3 separate regions of the Homo sapiens genome follow, and regions 1 and 2 are each linked to region 3. The links come from fine-mapping of genetic effects on gene expression. A gene starts in region 3. Each other region holds a variant in brackets. All regions are shown on one strand. Distances are from middle to middle.

The links. PIP is the estimated chance that this variant, and not a neighbour inherited with it, causes the effect.
Region 1: its variant is fine-mapped to the expression of ACSS1 in whole blood (INTERVAL, PIP above 0.99).
Region 2: its variant is fine-mapped to the expression of ACSS1 in whole blood (INTERVAL, PIP above 0.99).

Annotation. Positions count from the first base shown.
Region 1 is chr20:24,808,024-24,815,036 of GRCh38, reverse strand. No RefSeq gene overlaps it. Among named protein-coding and RNA genes, the nearest start is that of LINC02967, 110 kb to the left of the region's middle. RefSeq lists an enhancer at 5,697-6,197. The variant T/G (reference allele first, on the strand shown) is at 4,050.
Region 2 is chr20:25,020,050-25,027,062 of GRCh38, reverse strand. ACSS1 (acyl-CoA synthetase short chain family member 1) reads left to right here. Exons shown (of 14, transcript NM_032501.4): 4 at 3,422-3,597; 5 at 3,971-4,123; 6 at 5,527-5,674; 7 at 6,916-7,013. Among named protein-coding and RNA genes, the nearest start is that of APMAP, 31 kb to the right of the region's middle. The variant C/A (reference allele first, on the strand shown) is at 3,628.
Region 3 is chr20:25,054,285-25,061,297 of GRCh38, reverse strand. ACSS1 (acyl-CoA synthetase short chain family member 1) reads left to right here and starts at 3,159. Exons shown (of 14, transcript NM_032501.4): 1 at 3,159-3,529. The coding sequence starts at 3,196. RefSeq lists enhancers at 2,678-3,283, 3,934-4,063 and silencers at 2,904-3,433, 3,564-3,833.

The sequences.
Region 1 (7,013 bases), 250 kb after region 3:
GGTGTCCATGGTGACGCTGGCTCTCTGCCCTGCTGTGTGCTCACCTCTGGAGGCACCAGGAGAACCACCTGCCTGAGTGGAGGAAGGAGAAGGAGAGTAGGGCCCAGGAGAGAGCATCACAAGGCATCTACTGGAAGCACGTGGAGGCCTGAAGGAAGGCTACTTGTATCCTTCTCACTGAGAAACGTTTTGGGAACATGGTATGGACTAGGTAGGAGTTAAACCGTCACTGGGCAGAGACAGGCAGGACTATGGGTCTTGGGTGGGCTGAACCAGGGCCGAGGAGCTGGAGTCCAGCAGGGTGTCGGCTGGTCTCAGTTCACACGGCCAAGGGCCCAGGCTCCTGTCTGCCAGGGTGAAGGTGGTGGGGGTGAATCAGAGAACCTGGTCACTTTTGGGGACAGTTAATCTGGACACAAAGAGGCAATAATCTTCCTGGGTGTGAGGTGCTCAGCAGCCAGCCTGGACTCCACTAGGAGGAGAGGAGGAGGTGGGCCGTAGGCTTGAGCTCCCCCATGCCTCTTTCTCCCTCCCAGGGCTGAACATCTAAACTCTATGCCTCATGCTGTCAGTCCTTCCCTGGTGTTCACCAGCAACCCCTGGTTTGTTCTCGGTCCTTATCATGTTACCTCTGGAGGACTGATTTTAAACATTAAGAAAGTGTCACAGACACAAGGTGAGTGTCTTGAATTTCTGGAAAACAGAGACCTGAAGCTCCCAGGGATGCAGCCACCCTTCAGCCTGAGTGTGCATTACTGACCACCACACCATCGACGTCTTTTTGAAAAATGGCCCCATTTATGAGTGGGAGGCATATTGCTCTTTGATTTATGGGTCATTCTTGCAGCATTTATTGATCCGCAGCCCCCCTGCAATCATTCACAACCCACAGGGCACAGCCACCATGGCTCCACCAACCGGGGCAACTGCACAGACTGCAAAGAGACAGGGACGGACTTTGTGGCCTCTGATGTCCAGGCAAGCTGGTTCCCAAGTCCCAAACAGCTCTTAAAGCTGAGCGTGTGCACTTATTCCAAGTACACATAGCAAGGAGGGAAGAGAGAGAAGAGAGAATTTAAATACCCTCACCCATTCCATTTTCACCTTCCTGATCAAGCGTAGCTCTATTTTCCATGAGGAATATGAAAAACAAATTTATGTCAAGCGGGTGAGAGACCTAGTGGAGGGTCTTTCTGTTTGTGTTGATGATGAAATGGACTCGAGCTTATTGAAAAGTATTTGCAGGTGTCCCATAGAAGGGTATGTGTGCCGTGGTTACTCCTCCAGAGCTGCAGTGATGGACATAGAGCCATGAGTCACTCTGGAGGCTTCAGCCGGTGCTGGGGTCCCCAGGAGAGCAGGGGACAGGCTCCTCTGGAAGGCTGGCTAGCCCTGGTATGGCTGAGGGCTCTTCTGCTGGGCTGAGAAGACAGCCTATTTTAACAAAGAAGAGAAGGAAGTTTTCATTTCTGCTTTCTTGTTGTGGATCAAAGAGATAAAAGTGCAGTGTGTGGCACCAGAACACCAGCACCCGCTGACCTCTTTGAAATCAGATTTTCAGGGACCCACCTCACCTCTGTCTCTGTCTCTCTGTCTCATACACAGAAACACACACGCACACGTGTGCACACGTGCACACACACGCACACACGCACACACACGCACATGCACACACACGCACACACATGCGCACACACGCACACGCACATGCATGCACACGCACACACACGGAAACACATGCACACACATGCACGCACACACACACATGCGCGCACACACACACACGCAGACACATGCGCACACGGCACGCACGCGCACACCCACACCCACACGCAGACGCGCACACACACGCACACACATGCGCACGCACACGCGTGCGTGCACACACGTGCACGCACACACACGCACACACACGCTCGCACACACACACACACATCTCCTGTGAACATTACTGCCTTCGTCATGGTTTCTCATTCTTGGTCAGAAGCCCCTGTCCCCCTAGTCCCTTGCCACTCTAAAAGGAGATTCTTGGATTCTGTTCCACACCTTTTGAGTCCATGGGCAAGCCTAGAATTTGCATTTTTAGTAAGTAAGCCAGTGGTTCTGATGTAGACAGTCCACATATTACAGTGATGTCTGGACACACCGTTTAGAGATGTTTCCGACTGTTGAAGTCCATGACTTGTCACGTTTTCATGCTGCATCCACTGACAGGAGCTGACTACTTAAGGAACAAATGTAAATCTTGTCTTACAACTAGGTGGTTTGGGTATGCTGAGTGATAGACATGTCCCACTTTAAGCAAAACACAAACACAAAAACCTAAGTCTACCAAACAAATACCGGAGTTATTTGTTTGTACACTTTGTAAAACAAAACTCATCGCAGCAGAGAGGGGAGTGGAGGAAGCCTTGCTGAGAGCTGCCCTTCCCTCGGAAAGCTGAGATCCGGGCTGGCTGGGTCGGCACTCATCCCTGATGCTCTGCCCGGTGGTGGAGGGTGGAGGCTTGATTTCTGCCCCAGACAAAGGTCACTGTGACCCAGGCAAGAGGGTGGGGTGGCATGGGAGCTGCTGGGTGGGGAGGTGGGCACCTAAGAGGGCAGGGACCCCTCCCAAATAGCTCTGGCTCAAGTATTCCTCCCAATCACCCTCTAATGAGCCTTCTTGAGAAATCAGCCTGGGGGCAAAAGGCAGGGAGCACCACCCACCTCCCGAGTCTTGTGCACTGGGGGTTCTAGGAAGGAGAAGGTTTGAGCACCCCAGCCTGGGGTATGGGGCAGGCAGCATCAGGAGGGTGGAATATGGGGCAGGCAGCATCAAGAGGGTGGGTTATAGGGCAGACAGTGTCAGGAGGGTGGGGTATGAGGTAGACAGTGTCAGGTGGGGGCAGGCATGGGACAGACAGTGTCAGGAGGGTTGGGTATGGGTCAGACAATGTCAGGAGGGTGGGGTATGGGGTAGACAGTGTCAGGAGGGTGGGGTATGGGTCAGACAATGTCAGGAGGGTGGGGCATGGGGTAGACAGTGTCAGGAGGGTGGGGAATAGGTCAGACAATGTCAGTAGGGTGGGGTATGGGGTAGACGGTGTCAGGGGGGTGGGGTATGGGGTAGACAGTGTCAGGGGGGTGGGGTATGGGACAGACAGTGTCAGGGGGGTGGGTTATGGGGTAGACAGTGTCAGGAGGGTAGGTTATGGGGTAGGCATTGTCAGGAGGGTGGGGTATTGGGTAGGCAGCGTCAGGGGGGTGGGGTATGGCACAGGCAGCATCAGGAGGGTGGAATATGGGGCAGGCAGCGTCAGGAGGGTGGGATGTGAAGCAGACAGTGTCAGGAGGGTAGGTTATGGGGTAGACAGTGTCAGGAGGGTGGGGTATGAAGCAGACAGTGTCAGGTGGGTGCAGGCATGGGACAGTGTCAGGAGGGTGGGGTATGGGGTAGGCAGTGTCAGGAGGGTGGGGTATGGGGCAGGCAGTGTCAGGAGGGTGGGGTATGGGGCAGACAGTGTCAGGAAGGTGGGGTATGGGGCAGACAGTGTCAGGAGGGTGGGGTATTGGGTAGACAGTGTCAGGAGGGTGGGGTATTGGGTAGACAGTGACAGGAGGGTGGGGTATTGGGTAGGCAGTGTCAGGAGGGTGGGGTAGGGGTGGGCAGTGTCAGGAGGGTGTGGTATGGGGCAGGTAGTGTCAGGCAGGTGCAGACACATGGAGGCCCCCTTTCCCAACCCCACTTCCACTGACTCCTTCCCCTTGTTGGCTTAACCAACCCACCAGGTTCAGAGTTCAAGCCATGTGGGCTGGGTAGGGCGGTTCCCCTAAGCATGTGACCCTGCATGCCCAAACAGAGTGCCTCTCTGCACTAGCAGCCACACGGATTGGTTCCGCCATAGCCCAATCCAGAGTCCCTGAGAATCTTGCTATAATATTGAGGGAGAGGCTCCTCTGGTCACAAGTCACAGTGGGGCCTTGAGATCACATTTGCCCACCTATGGGTTCTGCCTAGATTCAGCCTCCAGAAAGCCTCAGCCCAGAGGAGCAGGAATGAGACAGAT[T/G]CCCGAAGCTGGGCTTGGAGATCCCTTGGCCTGCACTTCCCAGTCCATTTCCTGTGTTCAGGCAAGTGTGTCTGGTGCCTGCCCCAGCTCCCATAGGATGACCAAGTCATGCCTGGAGCAGATGCCTGCACTGCGCCTGGAACTCAGCTGGCTCAGTTAGCAGCAGCAGCCATGGTTGTCCTAGGAAAGGGTGGGGCGTCTCTATGTTCACACTTTAGGGAAAGCTGGCTTTCTCTCCATGGACAATACATTTTTTTTTTTTTTTTACTTTTAATTTTGAAACAATCTCAAACTTAAAAAGAAGATTGCAAGAACAGTATGGAGAACTTTCCCCAGAACCATTTAAAATTAAATTGCTAACATAACGCTCCATCACTCCCAATGCCTTAGTGTGTGATTCACGCAATCCCTACAGAAAAACACTCCTCTGGGAGCACAATGTGGCTATCGAAATTGAGGAATTAGCACACACACTTTATTTATTTATTTATTTTTCCCTTAAAAAACTTTTTTCCTGTTTTTAAAATTTCAACTTTTACTTTAGATTCAGGGGGTGGATGTGCAGGTTTGTTCCATGGGTATACTGTGTGGTGCTGGGGTTTGATCTTGTCACCCAGTCATTGGGCATAGCACCCAACGGTCAGTTTTTCAGCTCTTTTTTTTTTGAGACAGAATCTTGCTCTGTTACCCAGGCTGGAGTGCAGTGGCACGATCTCAGCTCACTGCAACCTCCGCCACCTGGGTTCAAGCAATTCTCGTGCCTCAACCTCCCGCGTAGCTGGGATCACAGGTACCCACCACCACACCCAGCTAATTTTTGTATTTTTAGTAGAGACGGGGTTCCACCATGTTAGCCAGTATGGTCTTGATCTCCTGACCTCGTGATCTGCCCGCCTCGGCCTCCCAAAGTGTTGGGATTATAGGAGTGAGCCATTGCGCCCGGTCTTTTCAGCACTTTAATCGGCCCGTCCTCAGCCCCCTTGAGTGTGGCCAGTCATCTCAGTCATGTCCTTCATAGCCAGGGTCCAGGTTTGGAGTCCCACGCTGCATTCATGCCTCCTTTCACCTGCAGCCGCTCTCTGGCCTTTCCTGACCTTCGTGAGCTTGTTGCTTCTGGAGCCCACAGATCAGTCACCTTCTGTGTGTGTGATGTCTCTTCACACCAGGGCCTGAAGGCAGCTTGGGCCGAGATCACAGGAGCGAGACCATGTTCGCTCAGCGTCCTCGCAAGAAGCTGATCTCGCCCCACAGCTCCAGGGAGGGCCATTGACACTGAAGGTCGCAGGTGCAGGGACGGGGAGGAATTAGGATTTTAGCATCACCAGTGAGACGTGACCCCAGGGAGTCTAGTTCTGGGAATGAGGCAGGGATGAGAATAGCATCTGAGAGGCCAGAGAATCGTGATACTGCTCAGCACTTCCTCTTAGGACTCCAGCACCTACTGCTGTGGAGCCCTGGACACGTTCTCCCCCTGTGCTGGTCTCCATTCCTCTGCTATGAGATGGGAACAGCACCGCCCATCTCCCCGCGCTGCAGGCCGCTGTCCAGGGAGGGTTTGGGTATCAGAGAGCCTAGCACCGGAGGCTCAGCTGGAAGCACAGTGCTCGTTCACCCCGACATCTCATGTTTCTGCTGACCTCAGTGCCCGCCCGAGGTGAAAGCCCTTCTGTACCCCAGCTAAAGGGTCCCGAGTCCTGGGTAGCTCCTGTGACACCATGAACATGATCCCTGACACCCTCAACGTTTCCCAGGATGCTCCTGCCTCTTTTATGGGGTGCCCAAGTCTTGGCTTTGCCCCTAGAGGCCCATTGCCCTGCAGCCCTGCAGATCAGAAGTAGGGCCACGTCCTCCTGGCCCCACGAAGTGTGTGCAGGCCCAGCTTGTCTAATTTGCCAAAGCTCTGCCCCTCATCTCTCCCCCTTCCATTTTCCTCTCAGCTCTCATCAGCAGGGCTGTGACAGCCATGTCAACCCAGGTGTATCAGTGTACTCCCTCAACCTTAGTGACCCTCACCCCACCCTGTCCCCAGAGCCCTGCCCTGGGCCTCCTGAGGAGCTTGCCTTGCACTGTGCCCTGCAGCCCTCACGTGATCTCACAGCCCGCAGCCCCCACATGATCACACAGCCCACAGCCCCCACATGATCTCACAGCCCACGGCCCCCACGCGATCTCACAGCCCACAGTCCCCATGCGATCTCACAGCCAGCAGCCCCCACAGGATCTCACAACCCGCAGCCCCCACGTGATCTCACAGCCCGTAGCCCCCATGTGATCTCACAGCCCACAGTCCTCACATGATCACACAGCCCATGTCTCCCATGCGATCTCACAGCCTGCAGCCCCCACAACCAGCACACTGCCCACTGAGACCAGCCAGCCTCAGAATTAATTGTTCATGGTCTCCAAACTCACTGGACTCCTATTTTAAGGAACACAGAGCGGCCATACCTTGTCCAAACTGCAAGTCTGTGAGAAGGATAATGAGTGATTTGTTTCAAGCCCCTAAGGTTTAGGAGGTTTGTTACACAGCAGAAGAAACCACAAGAGCTAATCTACCTTCAACTCATGGCAAAACTTGCATTTTAAAACCAGAGTGAGCTGGGCGCGGTGGCTCACGCCTGTAATCCCAGCACTTTGGGAGGCCGAGGCGGGCGGATCACGAGGTCAGGAGATCGAGATCATCCTGGCTAACACAGTGAAACCCCGTCTCTACTAAAAATACAAAAAATTAGTCGGGCATTGTGGCGGGCACCTGTAGTCCCAGCTACTCAGGAGGCAGAGGCAGGAGAATGGCGTCAACCTGGGAGGCAGAGCTTGCAGTGGGCCGGAGATCATGCCACTGCACTCCAGCCTGGACGACAGAGCCAGACTCCATCTCAGAAAACAAAAACAAAAACAAAAACAAAAAACCAGAGTGTACTTACACATTAAAGTATCCTATGTTCGTGTATTTTTTGGAAAGCT
Region 2 (7,013 bases), 34 kb after region 3:
CCATAGTTGATGCTTTCAGCATTATGCTAAGCTGCCCCTTTTCTCTCTTGCTGGTGTGGCCATGGTCACCCAGTGCTTCTGTTGAGATTGTTTGAAACAAGCAATAGCAGTTGACTCTTGGTGACTTCATCATGTGGGGATTTAGTAGCTGGATGCTGGGGCAGCTCCCAGAACCTCAGAATTCCTAAACAACCAAGCATGGGAGGGCAGGGGCCATGACTCTGTCCTGAAGAGGACTCTGCCCTGATATCCTTCAGCCTTTTTGTGCAGCTCTGCAGGTACCAGGTTCCTGGGGACAAGATTCTGTTGAGATGGGTATCTGTGTCCTGTTGGGTCAATGAGGGGCTGTTTTGGTTTTCTATTGCTGTGTCACAAACTACTCCAAAACTTAGTGTTTAATAAAACTGAAAACAATAAATTTTAGTATTCTATTTCATGGGTCTGTGGGACAGGAATCAGATGGGGACAGGGGAATGGCTGTTTTCTGCTCCATGACATCTGGGACATTAGTCAGGTTGACTTGAAGGGTTGGGGACTGGTGGGCCTGTCTTTCTCTCCACGTGGCCTCTTCACATGGCTGACTTGGGCTTCCTCATAGCCTTGCAGCCTTAGCAGTCAGGCTTGTCACATGGCAGCACATGGCTCCAAGAGGAAGGAAATAGCAACTGCCAGTGTCCTACAGTCCAGGCTGGCACAGGCCTGGCATCACTCTTGCCTTACTAGATTGGCCGAACCAGTCCGTGGCCATTCTAGATTCAAGGGGAGGAGACCTGGATCCTGCTTCTCTATAAGAGCAGGTGAAAGAATGTGCAGCCATCTTCAGTTGGCCACTGGGAGGTGGGTGTATATTGTGAGTCTGACCGCTAGGCTCTCACATGTCTGGGCAGCCACCTTAGTCAGCAGGTGCAGTTCCAGAGTTCAGTCCCCTGGCCTGGCTTCCAGGGTTGGACCATCCCTCTTCATTTGTCTTCCCTCTTGCTTTAGGCTGCTTGAGGAGTGGAGAGTGTTGCAGGGGAGGGTAGAGGTCAGGAGAATGGCTTTGAGAGAGACTGTGGGGGTAGAATAATGACCCACTCAGATGGCCACACTGTAATCCCCCAGAAGCTGTGCTATGTCACTTGCATGGTGAAAGACTTTGCACATATGAATAAGGCAATAGGATATCCAGGTGGGCTCCATCTAATCCCACATCCTTAATGCACAGAACTTGCTCCAACTAGAGGCAGAGGAAGTGAAGCAGAAGGGGAGGTCAGAGAGATTCAAAGCAACTTTACCCGCCGTTGCTGGCTTTGAAGATAAACAGGGCCACGAACCAGGGCAGGTGGTGGCTGTAGTCGCTGAGAATGACCCCTGGCTGACAGTCAGCAAGGAAAAGGCGACCTTAATCCCTCAGTCGCGTGGAACTGAGTTCTGCCAACCACTGAAATGGCCTGGAGGTGGATACTCCCCCAGAGCCACCACATAGGAGCCAGCCCTGTCCTTGACTTTGGCCTTGTGAGACTCTAACAGAGAACCCCACCAAGCCTGTCCAGACGACAGAACTCTGAGCTAAAAATGAGTGTTCTGAGCCACTAAGTTTGTGGTCATTTGTTATGGAAGCAGCAGAAAATGAACGCAGATGCTGGTACCTGCTCAAAACCAGGGAGAGAAAATTGAATCCTCCCAGAGTGGCATGTGGTTCCTGCCAGCACCCATGCTGTGGCCCAGCCTTGGAGGGCGCCAGTGGGCCAGACATGCTCATGGTGCTCAGAAGCTCCTGGGTACTTCCTAGAGGACCTCCTGGAGAGCCTACTGGGCAGGGAGGCCCTGGACAGGTGCGAGTCAGGAGTGAGGTGTGCGCCTTGGGAGGTGGGGAAGGAACTGCCTGCTGTGTAGTGTGATTTCAGCATGTTGCATGGGCTGGGGTCATTGTATCGTGAGAGCTTCTGACCCCCATGAGCTTTCTTTGTCTCCCGTCCCCTTGAGAAAGGTTCATTCCTTCCTGCTGGTCCATCTCCCTTCCTCGCCCATAGGGGGCTTACCTGGACCAACCCCTGCTTGGGGATGTAGGTCTGGAAAGTCTCTGATAGGCTCCACCCAACTGACTTGGTTTCCCCAGGTGAGCTATCGCTGAGGCTTGAAGGCCAAAGAGTGTGTGTAGCCACGGCTCTTGGTGCCAGATGCAGGGGTGGCTGCATCTGGGCAGGTCTAGGGTATCTCTCTGACCCCCGGATGGTGCTGTGTGTGCTGGAAAATTCTCAGGGAACCCTCATGGCCATGACATCTCCAGGGCTCTTAGGAGGAGAAAGGGTGGGCCTGTTGTGCAAAAGTGCTTTCAGATTTATTTAGGTAGGACTCTCCCAGAGGGGACATTGAGGCCAGAGTCTGTCTTGGAAGTGTGGTAGGGCAGTGGTGGCTCTGGACGGGAATGTGGCACACATGCCTCAAATGGCTCCATGCAAAGGGTAGGGAGTTGCAGGATTTGTACCCCAATTATGGAGAGCCATTGGTCGAGGGTTCCCCAGCACTTCTGCCCATAGCTCTGCAAGAGGCCTTTGGTGCAGAATGACTGAAAGGCCCAAGGGATGTGGGTGAGGCCCTGCCAGTCAGGGTCACAGCTGGGCATTTGTCCCAGGCTCTTCCTGAGGGGCTGTGTAGTAACCCCCCGCAGCTGTGATCCCTCTGGGTCATCCCGCACTGGGGCACAGCGTGGAGGACACCTCCTTTTCCTGGGGTCTTGAGGCCCACTGTGCGTGCACCCCTCTTCTCTGCTCTGGGCCTACCCCTAGGTTAGCCATGGAAGCTAGGGTCCTCCTGGCTTCCCCCTGGGCCTGGCTGAGCAACATTGGTCATTGAAGAGCAGGTGTGGGATCAGGAGGGCCTTCTCCTGAAGGTAAGGTGGGCAGGCAGCTCCCAGTCATCCACTGGGGTGTGGTTTCTGATCTCTGGACAGTGAAGGCTCTTGGCCCACACAAGTCACTCTAGACAGGGCCTGGCCACATGGGACACCTTTGGGCTTGGCCTCTGGTTGTCCAGCTTTCTTGTTCTCTGCCTCTCGGTATTTCTCTGTCACCTTGATTGCTGCAGGTGGCATGATGGCCTCTTTCCTGGGGTTTGCTCCTGGGCAGACAGGAGAGAAAGGTGGAAGTCTGGTTGGGAAATTGTCTTTATGCTGCTGACTCAAGGAGGAAGAGCTGAGCTTCAAAGTAATTTATCTCTGGTTCCTTCCCCTCAGCCTCAGAACTGGACAAAGGCCTGGTGCTTCTTCATGGCACACAAAGGCTGGAGAGCAGGCAGCCCCTCACTTTTTCCATTGAGTCTTTTACTCAAGATTGGACTGAGTTTCTCACACTCCTAGGCCTGGATGTCCTATGTGAGTCAGAGCTATGAGGGTTAAAGTCGGGAGGAGACTGATCAGAAATGTCTGTGTTGTCTCTGTTAGCCAAGTGCAAGGTGGTTATCACCTTCAACCAAGGACTCCGGGGTGGGCGCGTGGTGGAGCTGAAGAAAATAGTGGATGAGGCTGTGAAGCACTGCCCCACCGTGCAGCATGTCCTGGTGGCTCACAGGACAGACAACAAGGTCCACATGGGGGATCTGGACGTCCCGCTGGAGCAGGTGGGTTACCTCGCTTTGCACAGTTTGAGG[C/A]GAGGTCATATCAAGTTAGCTGGCTCTGAGGCTTCTCGGGTTGTGGTTCTCAATTTGGGTTCCCTAGAGGTGCCCAGGGTTCCTCTGTGGTATTTGGTGAGCTTGAGTCCTGACTGGGAAGATAAAACTCCTATACGACAAGCATGTTGGAACACTTACTGTAACACAAATGCTTGCACCCACGCTTTTGTTTTGTGTCCTTTCCACATTTGGAATTGAACTTGGACAGGTCAGAGCAGGTGAATTCTGAATCCTGTGTGTGGAGTCCTGCTGCGGAGGGGGAGTGCTGCTCTCAGAGAGGCTGAGTGCCCTCGGTGGGCTGTTTGTTTCTTCTCCCTGCCAGGAAATGGCCAAGGAGGACCCTGTTTGCGCCCCAGAGAGCATGGGCAGTGAGGACATGCTCTTCATGCTGTACACCTCAGGGAGCACCGGAATGCCCAAGGGCATCGTCCATACCCAGGCAGGCTACCTGCTCTATGCCGCCCTGACTCACAAGGTACAGGCCTGTGCGGGCGGTGCTGGGCCCTTGGCAGGGATCCAGGCAGGGGCAGGGCTGGAAGTCCTCCTGCTGCAGAGCGAGGCCTGTAGGTGTGAGAGGTCAGTGTTTCTTCCTGGCCTATTCGGGGCAGGGCCCCCTCGAGTCCTCCCACCCTACAGCTCCTCAGGGCCCTGGCTGCCTCAAGCCCCCACTGCACTGTCTGGAAACTCCCAGATAATCTGATCATGTAACGCGGCAGCAGGACACTAAGGGCCATTCGCCCAAAGATTTTTAAAAACTCTTTTTAGAACAGATAGAGAAAACCACCCAAATTAAATGCATGGCTTAATGAATTATTATAAGGCAAATGCCACTTTGATCAAGAAGTGGAAGGCCACCGGTTTCTCAGAAGCCCCTTCCAGGCCCATATGGCCACAGCCCCGTCCAGCATGTCTTGATGTGTCTTGTGCGCCTGCCCTGTTTTTATTTTGATAGTTTTGTGACCCATATGAGCATCCGTGGGCACTGTAGCTTACTGTTGCCAATTAAAATATTGTTTTTTCTTTTGTTTTGTTTTGTTTTGTTTTGTTTTGTTTTTTCATGGAGTCTCACTCTGTTGTCCAGGTTAGAGTGCAGTGGTGTGATCTCAGATCACTGCAACCTTTGCCTCCTGGGTTCAAGTGACTCTCCTGTCTCAGCTTTCTGAGTAGCTGGGATTACAGGCACCTGCCACCACACCCTGCTAATTTTTTTTTGTATTTTTAGTAGAGACAGGGTTTTGCCATGTTGGTCAGGCTGGTCTTGAACTTCTGACCTCAAGTGATCTGCCCGCCTTGGCCTCTCCAAGTGCTGGAATTACAGGTGTGAGCCACCGTGTCCGGCCTAAAATATTGTTGATATGTGTTTTAAGTCTTTTTAAGCCTATGCTCCCCCATTTCCTTACACTTGGCCATAGTCACATCCAGCCATTTTTCTCTGGTGTCCTTTGGTCTGGGTTGTGCCTGTTGTCCCTCTGCCTCTGTGTTTCCTGCACGTGGGCAGTTAGATCCTGAGATGGGATCAGGCTCCACTCAGTTGCTGTGGAAGAATAAAGGGGATTCGGATGTCTGTCCTCTCATGCTCCTCGAAGCTGATGATGCTTGATGCCATTCTTGGCCTTTTTTGCTTTTATTTTTTGTAGTTCTTAAGGGGTTTAAAAAATCGTGGCATAAGGTAATGCAAAAAGGTGTCCATGTGTTAAACGTACAACTAGACGGACTCTGCAGTGTGCCCACCTGTCCTGCTGCTGGAGGCCATTTGAGGAGCCAGCTGCCTCTCACAGCTATGGACTGCAGCCTATGCATGCCTATTTCCTAGTGACCTGGTGTGAACATGGTGGAGTGGGGGGACAAGCTCCTGATGCTCCTTTCCTGTCTCTGCAGCTTGTGTTTGACCACCAGCCAGGTGACATCTTTGGCTGTGTGGCCGACATCGGTTGGATTACAGGACACAGCTACGTGGTGTATGGGCCTCTCTGCAATGGTGCCACCAGCGTCCTTTTTGAGAGCACCCCAGTTTATCCCAATGCTGGTAAGGATGGTGAACCCTGTTTGGGACCCCATGCTGGTGTCAGGGGAGAGAGCCTGAGGCTCGAGGCTTGTGGAGAGGTTCATGGAAGGGGGACGCCTGGGTTCTGGTGAGGGTGTGGCTCTCCAGGTCCTGCTGTCGAAATGCCCGGTGGGGCCAGGCCCCAGGTCTTCAGAAAGATCTGACAGGCAGCAGCAGGGAGTCTGACTTGGTGCTGGAGGACATCTCAAGGCCCCTGCTCCTGCACTCCTGCCCTCTGACTTAAACTGCCGGCCTCAGGCCATCGCTTTGGCATCCTTCTCACCTCTAGGCTGCTTGCCCAGATCCAGCCCTTTCTCAAAGCCAGGGCCAGCTGCCCGCCACTTCTGTGTCCCCAGCCCTGCCCCTGAGCCTTCAGGGCTGTCCCTCAAACCATGTTAGGCATGGCCTAGAACCATCTCCATTAAATTGAGATCACTTTGAAGACAAGGTGATGACTGGCTCCCTTGGGCATCGTCCTCCCACACAGCACAGTGTCTTCAAATATTTTCTTTAATGTAAGCAGATCATGGTGGCTCTGCCCAAAGGCTGCTGCTCCAGTGTTCCATGGCACTGACAACTGTGCATGGACTGTGTTATCACCTCCCAGTGCTCCATCCCTGCCTTTGGGGGCTGGGTGTGCTCAAGGAAGAAGTTGTAGGGGCAAGACCAGGGATTAAGGGCCATGGCCCAGGTGCTGTCTCAGGCCACCACTTCAGCCCTTAGAAGCTCAGTGTTCCATGTGGAGGGGATGGTGTGGGTAGTGGGTTTACAGGAACCAGGGGTGTGCATGCCGGGCACATGGCCCTGCTCCCTGGGACACACGCAGTGGCAGCTGTACTGTCACCAGGGGAAGCACCAGTCACCACTTTAGAGCCCATGTGAGTGTGATCGAGTGAAAGCTCTGTGTTAATGCTCCATGGGTTATTAAATCCACGTAGTATCACCTTGAACTAGGCCATCACCCTAAGCCTGGTGAAGACTGTTCCTGAATGTGCCGCCCATGGATCTGGGGAGTGCTTGGAGGAGAGCGGCCATTGGGGACCTGTCCCATGGGGCTTCTTTCCATCTTTCACTGGCGGGGGTGGGGGGTTGGGGGGATCCCTTTCATATGGACATATGCGCGTCTGCACATGCCCAGCACTCAGGAAGTCTTGGCTGATCTCTGAGTTTAAAGTAAACCATGTCAGCTCTCCTGCTGACAGTGAATTTCGGCCTTTCTGTAGGTCGGTACTGGGAGACAGTAGAGAGGTTGAAGATCAATCAGTTCTATGGCGCCCCAACGGCTGTCCGGCTGTTGCTGAAATACGGTGATGCCTGGGTG
Region 3 (7,013 bases):
CTGGAGCCCCAATGAGTGAGAGCAGAGGAAGAGGGTACACTGGATCAGGGAGGGCAACGCTTCTCTAACGTGAATGTGCATGCAGCTCCCCTGGGGCTTAAGATGCAGATTCTGAGGCAGCAGGTCTGAGATGGAGCCTGGCATTCTGCATTTCTACAAAGTATCCAAGTGATGCTGCTGGCCCATGGACCACACGTTAAGTAGTGAGGCTATGGCCTGTGGGCCAGGGAATGATGTGGTCTTTGTTTTGAGGAGACTGGGGAGCCTTTGGATTGTTCCAAGCTCCAGAGCAAGTTCCTCTGACTCTTGTTTTAAAGGAATTGCACTGGCTGCTGGTTAGGCTGTCAGGGGCAAGGGTGAAAGCAATTTGAAGCCTACTGAATAATCCTAAAAGAGATAGGTATGGTTAGGATGGTAGCAGGAGGGGATGGTGATGGGGGAAGAGGTTAGTGCTGCAGGTGTTCTGAAGGTGAGTCACAGGATTTGCTGACAGGCTGCATGTGGAGTGTGAGGGGGAGGAATCTAGGATGACAAGGGTATGAGCCCAAACAACAGGAAAATGCCATTTCCATTCACTGACATGGAAGATCCGTGTTGTGGGGAAGAATCCCAGGACTTGGTATGTTTCAGATGTGAATGAGACATTTGAATACAGGACTGAGATGTGGAGGAAAGGTCCAGGCGGGAGGTGTCAATATGAAAGTGAGAGGCTAGAGAGCTGGCTGCTGTTTCCTAGGGGGCAGGGGAGAAAGGGGGATTTGAGGGCTGAGCTCCTGGGCACTTCAACACTTGGAAGGCAGAGAGAAGAAAGGCACCCAGTACAGGGCACTGAGAGGCAATAGTCAGTGAGTGAAAGAACCATGCATTTTTCAGCCTCAGTTGTTGTATCAGTTACCACTGCTGAGTTACAAACCATCCCAAAATTTAGTGGCTTAAATTTATTCCTTCTACAATTCTGTAAGTGGACTGGGAGGTTCCTTTGCATCCCAGGTGTTATCTGGGGTGACTCATGAGGCTGCCTTGGCTGGGACAGGAGCCTCCACATTGGCGTCATTCTTGTCTGGGAGTTGGTCCTGGCTGTGGATGGGACAGCTTCATCCTCGCCCTGGGTCCCTTCCTCTGGAAGGCCAGCCCCGCTTCCTCACAGCTCGCAGCTGGGTTCCATGGGAGGATAAGCTGGGGCTACGGGGTCTCTCAGGACCTCCACATGGAACTGTCACAGCATCCCTCCCACCAGGCTGTACTGGCCAAAGCAATCCAGCCAGCCAGGGTCCTCCTCTGGACAGAGCAGCACACCATCATGTGCAGGCGGTGCAGGCGTGGGAAGGAAGAGTTGGTGGCCGTCTTTGGGACCCCCTGCCACAGTTAGGAGCTTTCTCAGTTTACAATTTTACTACTCACTGACCTCTGCCTCTCAGTGCCCTGTACTGGGTGTCTTTAATATTCTATTCAAATGAACTTAGGCCAACGAGCTCCCCACTGGGGGCACTGGGTGTTAGTCTTGCTCTTCCCTTAGCCAGCTGCATGCTCTTTAGTAAGTCCTTTTATTTATTTGGGCTCAGTTTCCTCATTTTTTCCACCTGGAGTTTGACAGTTGGTGGGAATGGACAGCACTAGATAAGTTTCAAATTAAGTAGACTAGTCGGGTGCCGTGGCACACGCTTGTAGTTCCAGATACTCAGGAGGCCGAGTCAGGAGGATCGCTTGAGCTCAGGAGTTCCAGGCTGTAGTGAGCTGTGATGGGAACCATTGCACTCCAGCCTGGGCTACAGGCCCTATCTCTAAAAAAGTATCATAAATAAATAAAGGAGAAAATGCAGGTCAAGCGCTAGCACTGTGCAGGGCATGTGTTATGCTAGTAGATGTCACTGATTCTCCAGCTCTAGGTACACTCCTGTCTTCTCTGGCAGACAGCAGCATTCCCCAGCAGGGGCTGGTGGCTAGCCCACGCAGAGGCTCCTCCAATGGCAGGCTCCTCCCCTCTGCAAGCCCTACAGCTCAAGGGAAAGAAACTTTCCCATCACAGAGAACTCAATAAACCAGTTTTCCAAAATCTCTCTTCCCTGTGTTTACCCGTTTGTTATGAATTTACTTCTTGGGTGTCAGAATATTTAAGAACTCGGTGGAGACCAGTTTTATACGTTTCCTTCTGTCCTTCCTGGCTCCACAGCTGCAAAAACATCATCCCCACTACTGAGCTTACTATGGGGCCACGCAAGGGTAGACGCTTGACAGACATTGTCCAATGTATTCCTTACTGCAGCTGCCCACCCCCGCCGTCCCCGCCCCCCAGGGAGACATTACTTCCGTCTTCCCCAAAAGGAAAACGAGGCACCGAGAAGTTAAGGAACTTGCTCAAGGTCACAGAGTTTGAACTCAGGCTACAGATGCTGCAGCAACTGGAGAAAGTCCTCATCGCCCCATATCACCCACCACCGACCCCCAGCAGGACGTGACCCCCGCCAGGACGGAGGCCGGCAGCTGGGGGGCTGGAGCATGGGACCCAGAACACGGACTCAGGCTTGCGCAGCCTCCTGGCTTCTAGGCGGGAGCCTAGAAAGGCGCCAGCCCCTTTCGCGTGCTGCTGAGACTCCAGGGGTGGGGTTCACTCTCAGGGGCGCACAAAGGCATGAAAACCTTGGCTTCAGCCTCTGAGATGCGGAACTGACCGACCTATTGTCTTGGGACCCACCAGTGCGCTTGGGTGCACCAGCCCCCTTAACGTTGGTGCCGGCTCCCTCCCGGCTCCTCCCCATCCCAGAGGGTCCCCTCGCCCCAGGCCCTGAGCCTGCGTCCTGGGGTCCTGGGCCGCACGTGCCTCTGGCAGCTCGAAGAAGCTGTCGGGGCTTGCAGGAGAGCGTGCAAACTGAAACCAAAACAGGCCGACTCGAGGAACATCCGGGTGGGACCGCAGACTCACCGGAGCGCAGCGCCTGGGCCAGGGCCTGGGACCCTGCTCCGCCCCGCGCTCCCCTGCACCCCTTCCCCACGCTGCTCCCCTCTTCCTAAGCGGCCCCCCCTCTCCCGGGCAGCAGAAGAAGGGGTGGGACCCGGGCGGGCTCCGGGAGGGGGCCCTGGAGGAATGGATGGTGGCGGAAGGGCGGAGCAGGGGCGGGGCCCGCGGAGACTCCACGGGGCGCCCCGGGCGTGAGGCACCCACTCTGGGAGCACAGAGAGCTCAGGTAGCCTGCCTAGATGGCGGCGCGCACCCTGGGCCGCGGCGTCGGGAGGCTGCTGGGCAGCCTGCGAGGGCTCTCGGGGCAGCCCGCGCGGCCGCCGTGCGGGGTGAGCGCGCCGCGCAGGGCGGCCTCGGGACCCTCGGGCAGCGCTCCCGCAGTTGCAGCAGCAGCAGCACAGCCAGGCTCGTATCCCGCGCTGAGTGCACAGGCAGCCCGGGAGCCGGCCGCCTTCTGGGGGCCTCTGGCGCGGGACACTCTCGTGTGGGACACCCCCTACCACACCGTCTGGGACTGCGACTTCAGCACTGGCAAGATCGGCTGGTTCCTGGGAGGCCAGTTAAATGTCTCTGGTGAGTGGGCTTCGGGAGACCCAGGACGCCCCCAACTCTTGGGTCCCGAGGGGACTCGGAGCCTCTCGCCAGCGGCAGCCGTCCCCGGGCAGCGCGGATCGCAGCCCTGCAGGGGCCCCTCCTCCGGTATTCCGTCCGCCCCGCCCGCTCTAAGCAGTGGCTCCACGTCACCCCGTCCCTCATCCCATCGGGCCCCAGATCCACGTGCCCAGCTCGGGCCGGCGCCCGCGGGGACCCGGCGGCCGCTTGGGACGCCCCGCTGCTGGCCTTGCTCGGCGCGGCTCCTCGCTCGGCGGACTCCAGAGTTGCGTTACCGGGTGCATAGCGCCGCTGAGCAAGAGCCGGCGGGGAGCCGCGGGCTACACCCGAGCGCCCCGGAGTCGGGACTTTCCCGTTCCCATACCGGGGTGGAGGGAAAAACAAAGCGGTGGCGGTTGTCACTGCGGGCTGCGGTGCCCGGGGATCAGCCTGGGGACAAGCCCTGCCCACGTAAACAAACAGAGCTGTGGCGGGCGACCTGGGGAGGAGGAAACTCGGCGTGGCAGCTGGAACCAGTTATTTCTTCGCTGCGGGCCTGGGGCCTGGGGCCTGTGGACGGGAAGGAAGTAACGGCGGCCTCCCCGTTCTCGTTCTCGGCCTCAGAGAACTGCACCCCAGCGACCTGGGGCCTGCTTTGGACCCGCGGGGTCTGACGTCGGCCCCAAACAGTTGACTGGTGGTCAGTTGTTTGGAACTTGCTGAGCAGAGGCCCTGCTGCTCTGCTAAGATTTGGGGCTGGGGGTCGTACACAGCACCCTCGCCCCCACCTAAGGCGCTGACTGGGCACCGAGGGGGAGGCCCTGAACTGCAGGCAGGGCTGGCCACGCAGGGTGGGTGCCAAGTGCGAGGTGGGCTCCGGATGCAGGGTGGGCCTGGGTGTGGGGCCTGCGGGGAGGGGCTGGCAGACACGGTGTTGATCAGAGGGATGCAGACCAGAAGGGTGGTCATAACCAGCTTGCTGGATTTGGGAGTGTTTAAGAAAGGACCTGCGGGTCTTTATGGCAGGGTCACCAGGGCCCCATTTTCTCCAACTCCTCCCTCAGTTGTCCTTGTTGTTCTGCCCCCCCAGCCCTCAGTCTCCTCATTGTGAGGATGGGGGCAGTCATGCTCAGAGGTTAGGCTGAGTGCTGCAAGGTGTGCAGCAGACCCAGCGCTTACTGGTGACCCATAAGCAGTAGCGATTTTAGATAACTTCAGAAATAGTCATACAATTATAGATAGTGTCTTGCAGTTATTTTTCAAAGAAATTGGAAGGAACTTTGGACCTCCCCCACTCCCCGAAATTGTATATTACTTTGCTGGTTTAATTAAAATGAGTCACTTACTAGATAAGTGTTTTCTTTAACATTGAGTCAGCAGCAAGTGCCCTTGAACTAGTGGGAAAAAAACCAAACCCTTTGGTTTGCAGAGTTGGGGCAATGTGCCCTTGAAGGAGACTAGAGCAGCTTGCCCAAGGACAGAGGTGGAAAGTGACCTGCTCTGGACTTGTGAGGCCAAGGTCATGGGGAACATTCACAGTTGGCCTGTGCACACTTGCAGCCCCACTCAGATAAGACAGTGGGGCGGACCTCCTGGGGCCAACAGCAAGGACCTTCTGAACCTCGCTCGGTCAGGATCAGGGTGTGGTCAGCAAGCATTCTTCTGTCTCCTTTTCCTTCACTTATTTCTTCTGATAATATGGCCTTTATGGCTACGTTAGCCAGAAATTGAGCTTCAGAAAACTAACTTGAAAAACAGCTTTTCAGCAGCTTTCTCCCCTGGGATGTGCGTGCCCTCCTGTTCATGGGTCAGCAATATCTCTTTCCTTTGCCGGTGTCTGCAAACCATAGAGAAGACAGTATGAAAAAGGGCCAGGCCAGGCCATGACTCTTCTGGGAGCATCTAGAAAGTCGTGGGATGGATGAGAACACTTTGGTCTGATCTGTCAGCTGTGTGTGATAAAGTCAGATGGCTTGTTCCAAAGGAATATCACTCTTGAAGAAAGCTTCACCTCACCCCCTCAAGAATACCAGTGGTTCTCAACGCATGGTCTTCAGACCTGCAGCATCAGCATTACCTGAGAACTTTTGAGAAATACAAATTCTGGAGCCCATCCTGGACATCTGGAATCAGAAACCCTGGGATGGGACCTGACACCTGTGTTTATAACGAGCCCTTCAGATGCTCCAGAGGACACTCGGGCTTGAGAACCACTGGCCTGTACGCCTCAAACCAGGGCAGATGAAGGCACTTCTAAAACAGAATTGGGATTAGTGTCCTGGCCTTGGCCCTATTAAACAAACAGCAAGCAAATGATGGGCTGTGGATGGCGCAACACAGTTTCGTGGCTCCAGGTGTCTTTAGAATCATGACTCGGGTTGATTTCTTGCTTTCCCTGTACTGTACTTTGCATGTTTCCTCATCTGTAAAACAAGGGCCGTATGTAACTGAATTCTGTCCTAGTTACTATTGATGTACATCAAACCACCCCTAAGTTTAGTGACACAAGATAACAACAATTTTATATTCCTCGCAGAGTCTGTGAGTCAGGACTTTGGACAGGGCCCGATGGGGATGACTCATGTCAAAGGGCAAAATTAGGACAAATTTAGTTTAAAGACCTTACTTCACTTTATTCGTGATTATAGAATTGGGAAACACCCCATTCCATAAAACAGAAGGAATGTTTGATGAGCTGAACAGAGGAGGATGGTTTTATAGACAGAAGGGGCTGAAGGATGCAGACATGGAGAACAAAAAGTGGACTGGTTATTTCAAAGCTACTTTTGTTGTAAAGGTGAAAGTGGAAGGAGCTCCCTTATCATGCCAGCTTGTTTGGAGATTTAGCTATCTTTCACTCTCCTTGTTTCTTAGAAGGTCGGATAAACAACTTAGTTTCCATTTGGTGACACCGCACTTTAGCAAGAGTGACTCCATTTTTGTGTGATCTATTGGGCCTCATGCAGCTCAGTCCAGACCAGTGGCCTCCTATACATTTTATTTAACACTTGCTCCTGCTCCTCAGTGTCTGAGGTTGGAGTCATCTGCCTGTTTCTCACTCCCAAGTCTGGAGCCTTGTTTGGGACAACTTGCAGGCTGGCTTCAGCCAGAACTGTGGCCCAAAGCACCTCCTGGGGCTTGTCACAGCATGGTGGCTGGGCCCAGGCAATTTCCTGCAACCAGAGGTCCAAGAGACCAGCACAGATGTTATCAGGCATCTTCCGACCTGGGGAAGGGGACCTGAGTGTTTGCACCTGTTTTGTTATCCATGGGAGTATCTATCAGCACACCCATCCCAGGGCTGTTAGAATGAAATGAGGAAATGCTTGTAAGGCACTCAGCACTTTCTTAACACATTATACATCCCCAGTCACTGACTATTTGTTATTTATTAATGAAGCATGTGGGGAGGCTGTGACCTTGTGCTTGGCCTTCGGCAGTGCTGCTGAGAGAGCTGAGCTTCATC